2 separate regions of the Homo sapiens genome follow, and region 2 is linked to region 1. Evidence: fine-mapped expression QTL. A gene starts in region 1. The other region holds a variant in brackets. All regions are shown on one strand. Distances are from middle to middle.

The links. PIP is the estimated chance that this variant, and not a neighbour inherited with it, causes the effect.
Region 2: its variant is fine-mapped to the expression of TNFRSF10B in T cells (GENCORD, PIP 0.95).

The regions. Positions count from the first base shown.
Region 1 is chr8:23,066,563-23,071,937 of GRCh38, reverse strand. It overlaps TNFRSF10B (TNF receptor superfamily member 10b), which reads left to right and starts at 2,907. Exons shown (of 9, transcript NM_003842.5): 1 at 2,907-3,187. The coding sequence starts at 3,044. It also overlaps the pseudogene TNFRSF10B-AS1. RefSeq lists enhancers at 587-1,086, 1,408-1,702, 2,484-2,653, 2,674-2,723, 3,264-3,523, a cis regulatory region at 2,917-2,922 and promoters at 2,377-3,047, 1,815-5,375.
Region 2 is chr8:23,111,445-23,116,819 of GRCh38, reverse strand. It overlaps TNFRSF10C (TNF receptor superfamily member 10c), which reads right to left. Exons shown (of 5, transcript NM_003841.5): 2 at 4,995-5,100; 3 at 2,050-2,163; 4 at 1,204-1,312; 5 at 1-179. Among named protein-coding and RNA genes, the nearest start is that of TNFRSF10C, 11 kb to the right of the region's middle. The variant C/T (reference allele first, on the strand shown) is at 2,126.

The sequences.
Region 1 (5,375 bases):
CATGTGCCCTGGGGATCCAGAGTCTAGAGTGACTGACACCAGCCCTGCAATTTGTCCTCCTAGACCTGTTAACAGAGCCTGCAGAAGTTTACACAGGGCTGCTGAAGATTTTTATCCCCTCATTTTACAGGAAGGAGCTGGGGCCATACCAGAGTCAGAGCTGGACCGGGAGCACGGCAGGGCCCAGCCATCCACAGCCTCCAATTTCAGTACTCTCTAACAACCTGAGAGCCTGAGCCTTCGGATCTTCTTGATTCCTACTTTGATAAAGAGAGGGATGGGGTTGGAAGGACCTGGCATAGAGATTGGACCAGTCCGGCATTGACAGAGCCAGGACCTGGGGTCCGGAACTGAGCTCAGCTCCAGGCTCATCTGAAGTCACCCTGACAGCCTGAGGATGGAGACCTTATTTCCATTAACAGGCATGGCGGTTGGCAGGGACTGGCCCCAGCTGAGCACGGTTTTCCAAGTACACAGCTGGGAATTAAGTCTTCTCTGCCGCCCTCCCCTGTAGTCTTGCCTGGATCCCCCCAGTCATCTACTCCCAGTACCAAAAACTCCTGTATTCTTGAAAATCCGTAGTACTGAGAGGTGACAGCTTGCTGGCAGTCCTCAACAGCCCTCGCTCGCTCTCGGCGCCTCCTCTGCCTGGGCTCCCACTTTGGCGGCACTTGAGGAGCCCTTCAGCCCACCGCTGCACTGTGGGAGCCCTTTTCTGGGCTGGCCAAGGCTGGAGCCCGCTCCCTCAGCTTGCACGGAGGTGTGGAGGGAGAGGCGCGAGCGGGAACCGGGGCTGCGCGCGCGGCACTTGCGGGCCAGCTGGAGTTCCGGGTGGGCGTGGGCTCGGCGGGCCCTGCACTCGGAGCAGCCGGCCGGCCCTGCCGGCCCCGGGCAATGAGGGGTTTAGCACCCGGGCCAGCGGCTGCGGAGGGTGTACTGGGTCCCCCAGCAGTGCCGGCCCACTGGCGCTGCGCTTGATTTCTCGCCGGGCCTTAGCTGCCTTCCCGACGGGCAGGGCTCGGGACCGCCATGCCTGAGCCTCTCACCCCCTCCGTGGGCTCCTGTGCAGCCGGAGCCTCCCCGACGAGCACCTCCCCCTGCTCCAGGGCGCCCAGTCCCATCGACCACCCAAGGGCTGAGGAGTGCGGGCGCACGGCGCGGGAGCACGGCGCGGGACTGGCAGGCAGCTCCACCTGCAACCCCGGTGCGGGATCCACTGGGTGACGACACCTGGGCTCCTGAGTCTGGTGGGGACGTGGAGAACCTTTATGTTTAGCTAAGGGATTGTAAATACACCAATTGGCACTGTGTATCTAGCTCAAGTTTTGTAAACACACCAATCAGCACCGTGTGTCTAGCTCAGGGTTTGTGAATGCACCAATTGACACTCTGTATCTAGCTAGTCTGGTGGGGCCTTGGAGAACCTTTGTGTCCACACTCTGTATCTAGCTAATCTGGTGGGGAAGTGGAGAACATTTGTGTCTAGCTCAGGGATTGTAAACCACCAATCAGCGCCCTGTCAAAACAGACCACTCCGCTCTACCAATCAGCAGGGTGTGGGTGGGGCCAGATAAGAGAATAAAAGCAGGCTGCCAGAGCCAGCAGTGGTAACACTGTGGAAGCTTCCTTCTTTCCCTCTGCAATAAATCTTGCTACTGCTCACTCTTTGGGTCCACACTGCCTTTATGAGCTGTAACACTCACCTTGAAGGTCTGCAGCTTCACTCTTGAAGCCAGCGAGACCACGAGCCCACCAGGAGGAAAGAACAACTCCAGACCCACTGCCTTAAGAGCTGTAACACTCACTGGGAAGGTCTGCAGCTTCACTCCTGAGCCAGTGAGACCACGAACCCACCAGAAGGAAGAAACTCCGAACACATCCGAACATCAGAAGGAACAAACTCCAGACACGCCGCCTTTAAGAACTGTAACACTCACCGCGAGGGTCCGAGGCTTCATTCTTGAAGGCAGTGAGACCAAGAACCCACCAATTCCGGACACAGTACCATGAAGGAATGAAAATACATAACAATGTGATGTATCATGTTTTATTTCCTAGACTAGTGACAAATGAAAGCTAAGTGTAGCAAGGGTGCAGGGACACAGGCACATTTGTGGACTAGGTGTGAGTGTAAGCTGGGTTCGATGGTCTTTTGGCCAACATAGTGAACCCCTGTGTCTACTAAAAATACAAAAATTAGCCAGGCGTGGTGGTGCAGGCCTGTAGTCCCAGCTACATGGGAGGCTGAGGTGGGAGTATCGCTTGAACCTGGGAGACGGAAGTTGCAGTGAGCCGGGATCACACCACCGCTCACCAATCTGAGCCACAGAGAGACTGTCTCAAAAAATAAACCACAAGGAAGGGAGGTAGGGGGAGGGGGAGGGAGGGAGGAAAGAGAAAGAGAGAAAGGAAGGAAAGAGAAAGCAGGAAGGACGGAAAGAAGACGAAAGAACGAAAGAAAACGAAAGAAAAAAGGAAAGAAGAGAGAAGGAGAGAACAGAAGGGGCAGGTGCCCCTGGGAAGGGGAGAAGATCAAGACGCGCCTGGAAAGCGGACTCTGAACCTCAAGACCCTGTTCACAGCCAAGCGCGCGACCCCGGGAGGCGTCAACTCCCCAAGTGCCTCCCTCAACTCATTTCCCCCAAGTTTCGGTGCCTGTCCTGGCGCGGACAGGACCCAGAAACAAACCACAGCCCGGGGCGCAGCCGCCAGGGCGAAGGTTAGTTCCGGTCCCTTCCCCTCCCCTCCCCACTTGGACGCGCTTGCGGAGGATTGCGTTGACGAGACTCTTATTTATTGTCACCAACCTGTGGTGGAATTTGCAGTTGCACATTGGATCTGATTCGCCCCGCCCCGAATGACGCCTGCCCGGAGGCAGTGAAAGTACAGCCGCGCCGCCCCAAGTCAGCCTGGACACATAAATCAGCACGCGGCCGGAGAACCCCGCAATCTCTGCGCCCACAAAATACACCGACGATGCCCGATCTACTTTAAGGGCTGAAACCCACGGGCCTGAGAGACTATAAGAGCGTTCCCTACCGCCATGGAACAACGGGGACAGAACGCCCCGGCCGCTTCGGGGGCCCGGAAAAGGCACGGCCCAGGACCCAGGGAGGCGCGGGGAGCCAGGCCTGGGCCCCGGGTCCCCAAGACCCTTGTGCTCGTTGTCGCCGCGGTCCTGCTGTTGGTGAGTCCCCGCCGCGGTCCCTGGCTGGGGAAGAGCGTGCCTGGCGCCTGGAGAGGGCAGGGAGAGAGGGGGACACGGCGGGGGTGCGTGGCCCGGGTCGCCTGCGGCCGGGCATGTCCGGGCAAGACGCACCAGTCGTCGGAGTCGGGGGAAGAGATGGGTCCCCGGGTTGGGCAGGAGCGACCTGGGCCGCCAGGGAACAGAGCGCGCGCTCCACTTGGTGTAAATTCCCGAATCCAGTGGGGGAGGGCGACAAGGAGGGAATTCCCGAGTAAGCTGCGTGAAGCCACGGAGAGGTCGTCGGACTTTGATTTTGTTTTCTTTCCTTACTTTCTGTTTCTTTCTCTTTTTCTCTTTCTTCCTTTCTTTCCCTCCCTTCCTTCCTCGCTCAGTTCCTGCCTTAATTTCTTTTTCTTTTGCGCCTTCGAATGAATTCCTAAAGGCGCTCATTGCAGATCGCTTTGAACCTGCGGCCGGCGAAGAACTCCCCTGTGGTCGCTGCGGCCCAGTGGTTCCGTTCCGTGCGCGGGAGTCGTCGCGGGCGCAGCTGGAGAGGCCCCTTCCCCTCCTTAGCGGCTGCGCCCCTACGCGTGCGGGGCCGCTCATCGCCAATGCCATTGTTTGGGGTTCCTTGGGAAAACGAGATTTAGGAGAAGGGAGTTGTGGCACTTGGGGCCTGACCTGCTTGATAATAGCAGCTGCATTTTGGCCTGGGAAGAGCCTTTCTTGCCACCTCTTGGCAAGTATCCGTGATAATGGGGAAGGGACAAAGAGTCGGCTTTGTAGGGAACAGCATGGTGTGCTCAGCGCCTGGAACTGCGCTTGGGGCCAGGAGAGGTTCTGAATCATCACATTTTACAGAGGAAGAGACCGCAGCTCAGAGTGGGGAAGTGTGTGGGCCTAGACCTAACTCAAGACTGTACAGAGGGGCTGGAAGGGAGAGGAGGAACAGTGAAAGGAAGGTCAAGAGAATGCTGGTGTTGACCTAGAAGAATGTCAGTGTGAAGCATTGGAGTTTCATGGGATATTGTTACACACCTCATGTTTTCACTGTTTCCGCCCCACACCACAGTATGTCCTTGGTCTCACCTCTGAGTGGAGGGAGGACCTAACTGTCCTAGTGAGGAGAGTGTACAGGGGCCTCTGCCTCCCCCTCCTGCTGTGGTTTCTGTGGGCCTAGGTCCCCAGGGCATCTTGCCTCTCTTTGGGTGGTGGATCTTTGGTCTCTGGCTGCTTTTAAAGATTTTTCTTAGCACTGGTTTGCAGTGATTTGGTTTGTTTGCTCTGTTGTGGGGTTTTTTTTTTATCTCTATAAAGAATTTTTTGGATTTTTGGCTTTAGACTTTCATGTTCTTTCTACTTGGAAGATTTTTCTGTAAAGAAAGCCACAACTGGGTTGTGTTGAATTTCTTGGATTTGGGGTTTTAGAGTTTATGTTCTCCTTGGAGACTTTTCTGTAAAGAAAGCCACAACAGCCGGGTCTGGTAGCTCATGCCTGTAATCCCAGCACTTTGGGAGGCCGAGGCGGGCAGATCACATGAGGTCAGGGATTCGAGACCAGCCTGACCAACATGGTGAAACCCCGTCTCTACTAAAAATACAAAATTAGCTGGGTGTGGTGGTGGGCACCTGCAATCCCAGCTACTTGGGAGGTTGAGGCAGGAGAATCACTTGAACCTGGGAGGCAGAAGTTGCAGTGAGCAGAGATGGCGCCACTGCACTCCAGCCTGGGAGACAAGAGCAAGACTCCAACTCAAAAAAAAGAAAGAAAGAAAGCCACAACAGAGTTATGTTGAATTTCTTGGATTTGGGGTTTTAGAGTTTATGTTTTTGTTTGTTTGTTTGTTTGTTTTGAGATGGAGTCTTGCCTCTGTCGCCTAGGCTGGAGTGCAGTGGTGGGATCTCAGCTCACTGCAACCTCTGCCTCCTGGGTTCACGCCATTCTCCTGCCTCAGCATCCCGTGTAGCTGGGACTACAGGCATGCACCACCACGCCCAGCGAACTTTTTGTATTTTTAGTAGAGACGGGGTTTCACCGTGTTAGCCAGGATGGTCTGGCTCGTGATCTGCCCGCCTCAGCCTCCCAAAATGCTGGGATTACAGGGGTGAGCCACCACGCCCAGCCGAGTTTATGTTCTACTTGGAAGATTTTCAGCCATTATTTCTTCAAATACTCTGTCTCTTCTGG
Region 2 (5,375 bases), 45 kb before region 1:
GAGTCCCCGGGCTGGTGTTCATTGTCTCTTCAGCAGCTGGGGCAGGAGTCCCCGGGCTGGTGTTCATTGTCTCTTCAGCAGCTGGGGTTTCCACAGTGGCATTGGCACCAAATTCTTCAACACACTGGATATCATCCCAGGACGTACAATTACTGACTTGGACTTCCCCACTAGGGCACCTGGGTACACACAGAGAGGGAGGTGAGGACTCCTGAGGGAAAGCTAGCCAGGTGGGATAAAAGGGGAGCCACCCTCCCTCTCCAATGTCCCTGAGAAGGTGTCAGGGGAAGGACAGGCTCCTGTCTGGAGGGGGTCCCCCAAGTTCCCTCGTTGAGGCTGGGGAAGGGTCTGAGCATGCGCATTTCAGCCCCTCAGCCTCCCTGCTCTGGGGCCACAGGAGCCTTCTGTGCCGGGCACACACTGAGCTTCCCTGGGCTGCAGAGGAGGCCTGCGTTAGGAGGAGCCACACTCCAGGGGAAGGTCACGAGCCCTTGTGGCCACAAGCTGAGCCCCTTCCTCCAGTCAACCCACAGTACAAGTGATCTCTCACCCCCAACTGTCTGCTGGTTCCTCCCTATCACGGCAAACATTAGGGGGCCAGAGAAGAACAAATTACTCTTGGCCCTTAAAGCCCAAATAGGGAAAAGACAGGACTTATTGAGGGATTGGGGCCAGGGGTGAGGCCGGCTGGATTGGCTCAGGCCTTCATGGGAACTTGAAGGAGCTCCACCCACAGCCTTCTTATGACTTTTGTCGGCCGTGACCACTTTTGTCTTTATGGGTCCTGCCTGCATAAAAAATATTAAAAAGAACATTTTTTAAAACAGCTTGGTATAGCAACAAATACAACCCAGACTGGATTCAAGTGTTTTCTTCTCATTTCAAAAGGAAATCGCATTTCCTAGGTTTGCTGAAAAGGATCAAGGGATCCAGAAAGTTGCTTCTTGTGCCCAGTGAACAAGTTGGTCTGGCCAAGGGGACTCGTGCTGGGGAGGGTCTGGGAAGGGGCTGCTGCAGGGGGTAGGGGTGGGGACAGGCAGATGGACCAGGAGCGGCCACTGCAGACCCAAGAGACCCCACAGGCTCAGGGACACCCCATGGGTCTGGAGGCTCCATAGGGTCAGCGGAGAAATAGGGGTACCAGGTGACTCAGGTCTTCTCGGGTTCCTGAAAGCTGTCAGGAGCCCCTGACTGCTGTCTCACCTGCTACACTTCCGGCACATCTCTGGGGAGTTTTCATTCCGGAAGGTGCCTTCTTTACACTGACACACTGTGTCTCTGGTCATGGTGCAGGAACTTTTATGTTTTTGATCTGACAACAGAGCATAAGGTTTTGGGAATGTGTTTCCCTGATGTATCCCTCGATCTTCCTTACCACCCACCCCCTCCCACTCAGCTCAACCAAGTTCACCAAGGAGTTCTAAGGGCCAGTTTCTGCACCAGCACACTCAGGGCTCATACAGGACACCCACCCTTCAGCTGTCACCAGCACTCAGAGGAGTCATAAAAAGGAGCATAATTCATTATTTATTACATCAGATTAGGGGAAAAGCATTGTTTAGATGGCATGGTCAGTAGCAAGGGAGGTGCAAGGGCATCACCTGAGAGACTCTGCAAGGAGACGGAGGCCTTGGGGGACTTCCCCAAAGCCTGGGCCTGCTGGGGAGGAGGAAGGGGCCTGAGAACCTGAAGGCTGAGTGAGGCCGAGCACCTGCCAGGAGCACAGAGCCTGGGGGAGAGAGCCTGGCCCTGGAGCAGACCCGTGCCACTACTGAAACCTAGCCCTGTCCACTGGGCCAGGCCTTCTCTATGCTCTAATGATCCCCCCACCCTCTTGCAGCTGACAGTTTAGACGATTTCCCAGCCAGGTGGCATGCATTATAGAAAAGATTTCTTTCTATTTTTTTAATCAGTCAAATATATAATCATAGAACAGGGTGATGAAGACCAGGTTGGGCTGGAACTTGGTTCCCTGACTCATATCGGCTACAACTCCCACCTCATTGCCCCACGCTCCACCTCTGGACAAGAGGTCCACACATTCTGTACCTGATTTACAAACTGTACATGGGAAGCAAGAAGGTTCATTGTTGGAAGCGTTGGTGTAATCCACACCCTCTGTGCA[C/T]GGGTTACAGGCTCCAGTATGTTCTGATCTATGAGATCCTGGGAAGGAAGAGAAAAGCCAATGAATGAGTCACCACAGAATTCCCAGAGGCTGACAGTGGTGGGGAAACTTCTTTTTTGGCCCTCACTGGAATTGAGACAGAGAAATCCACTCTTCCAGGCTTGGTCTTGTCATCCATTCAGCATCTATTACATACCTTTGACTGGCACTGCTGACAGAAATATAATACAAAATTCAAATTCTATGCAAAATTCAAATTCTATGAGAGCCATATTAAAATAGTAAAAAGAATGAGGCCAAATTAATTTTAACAATATAGTTTTAACCTAAAATATCTGAAATACTACATTTCAACATGTAATCAATACACATCATTGAGATATTTTACTTTTTTTACGCCGTCACTCACAAAATAACATCCAACCTACTGTACATGTGATCTGCCCATGCTGGTCCACCTGACCTGTTTGCTGTCCACTCACCACAGTGGCCCCCTGTCTTCGCTCAGTCTCCCCAAGCCCCCGAAACCTGGGGTTCTCATTCCTTCAGGGCCTTCTCAAGAGCACTCTTCCTGGCTCTCTGCAAGACTGGCCCTGTCCAACTTTAAATATCAGCCCAAATCACCATCCCCGAGAGGCCCCACCAACCTTGTCTATCTCCTGTCACTTAACTATTCTTCATGGTTCCCATCAGGACATCCTGACTGTTATGTATATTCATGTGTCTTTTTTTTTTTTTTTGAGACAGAGTCTTGCTCTGTCACCTGGCTGGAGTGCAGTGGCACAATCTCGGCTCACTGCAACCTCCAACTCCCTGGTTCAAGCGATTTTTCTGCCTCAGCCTCCCGAGTAGCTGGGATTATAGGCGACGCACCACCACGCCCAGATTTGTATGGAACTACAAAAGACCTCAAATAGCCAAAGTGATCTTAAGCAAAACAAACAAAAGAACAAAGATGGAGGCATCGTACTACCTGATTTTAAAACGTGTTACAAAAGTATAGTAATCAAAACTGAATGGTAATGGCACAACAATGGTAAATAAACTGATGGAACAAAATAGTGAACCCAGGTATAAATCAATGCATTTACAGTTGATTGATTGTGAGAAAGATACCAAGAACACAAAATGGGGAAAGGACAGCTCTTCAATAAATGGTGTTGAGAAAAGTAGGTATTGACATGCAGAAGAATGAAATAAGACCTTTATCTCACATCATATGTAAAAATTAATTCAAAATGGACTAAAGATTAAAACATAAGATCTGAAATGGTAAAACTACCACAAGAATACATAGGGGAAAATTTTCATGATGTTGGTCTGGGCAATGGTTTCTTGACTATGACCCCAAAAGCACAGGCAACAAAAGGAAAAACAGACAAATGAGGTTACATTACACTAAAAAGGTTCTGCATGACAAAGGAAACAATGAACAGAGTGAAGAGACAACCTACAGAATGAGGGTCAATATTCAAAAGATCCAAGATTTTGGTTAAAATCCAAAATACACAGGAACTCAAACATCTCAATAGCACACAATCAAATAATCCAAGTAAAATGGATACATGGGCGTGGGACCTGAATAGACACTTCTCAAAAGGAGACATAGAAGTGGCCAAAAAGTATATGAAAAAAATGCTCAGCATCACTAACCATCAAGTGCCAAATATCACTTCACACCTGTAAGAATGGCTATTACCAAAAAGACAAAAGGTAACAAGTGTTGATGATGGGGAGAAAAAGGAATGCTGGTACACTGTTGGTGGGAATGGAAATTAGTACAGCCATTATGGAAAACAGTATGGAGGTTCCTCAAAAAACAAAAAATAGAACAACTATATGATCTAGCAATCCCACTATTGGGTATACATCCAAAGGAAATGACGTCAGTATATTGAAGAGATATCTTCCCTCCCATATGCATTGGAGCATTATTTACAATGGTCAAGACATGGAATCAACCTACGTGTCCATGGATGGATGAAAAGTTAAAGAAAATGTGACACATAGATACAATGGAATACTATTCAGCCTTTAAAAAGAAGGGAGTTCTGTCATTTGTGTCAGCATGGATGAAGCTGGAGGATACTATGCTAAGTGAAATAAGCCAGGCACAGAAAGGCAAACACCTCATGATCTCACATATGTGGAATCAGAAAAAGTTGGTCTCATAGAGGTGGAGAGCAGAATGGTGATTACCAGGGCTTGAGTTGGATGGTGGGATGGGGAGATGTTAGTCAAAGGATACAAAATTTCAGTTAGACAGGGAGAATAAATTCAAGAGATGTATTGTGTGACATGGCGACTACAGTTATTAAAACAATGTGTTGTACAGTCCTGCCTTCTATCCACAGGGAATATATTCCATGGAACAAACTCTGCATATACTCAAGTCCCTGATATAAATTGGGATAGTATTGCATAAAACCCACGCACATATGCTTTAAATCATCTCTAGATTACTTGTAATACCTAATGCAATAGACATGCTATGTAAATAAGTGCTATACTGCATTGCTTTTTATCTGCTTTTATTGATGTATTATCATTTTTATTTCTTCCGCATATTTTTGATCTGTGGTTTGTTGCAACCATGGATACAGAACCCATAGATAAGGAAGGCTACAGAACCCACAGATAAAAAGGGCAAAGAGGGCTTATCCCAGGGCTCTGTATCCATACAGCTGAAAATTGCTGAGCAGATTTTTAAGTGTTCTTACCACGAATACATGATTAAGTATGTGAATTAGCTTGATTTAGCCATTCCACAATGCGTACATATTTCAAAACATCATGGTGTACATCATAAATACATACAATGTTTATCTGTCAATTAAAAATAAACTGATTTTTAAAAATAAGAGTGCACCTGCTGGACACTCCTCCCCCTTGAAGCTGTGCCTCTGTTGCTGTGGGGCCACTGTCTGCTGGGGAACTTCCTCCTGCCGGGCAGTGGTGGCAGAGTAAGCTAGGACCTGTGGGGACAAAGGAGTGATGGGTGTGAGTGACTTCCAGACCTCACCCCTCCCAGGCTCCATCTCACATTCCCTTCACCCCAAGTGACAAAACCCATCAGAGCTTGGACATTTTTTCCAGCTCCAAACTTTCATTCTTTCATACCTGTGTTTGTCCCTTGGCCTGTTAGGGCCAGCTATTTTCTATAAAAAAAAAAAAAAATACAGGCAAGCGCGATGGCTCAAGCTTGTAATCCCAGCAATGTGGAAGTCTGAGGCAGGTGGATCACAAGGTC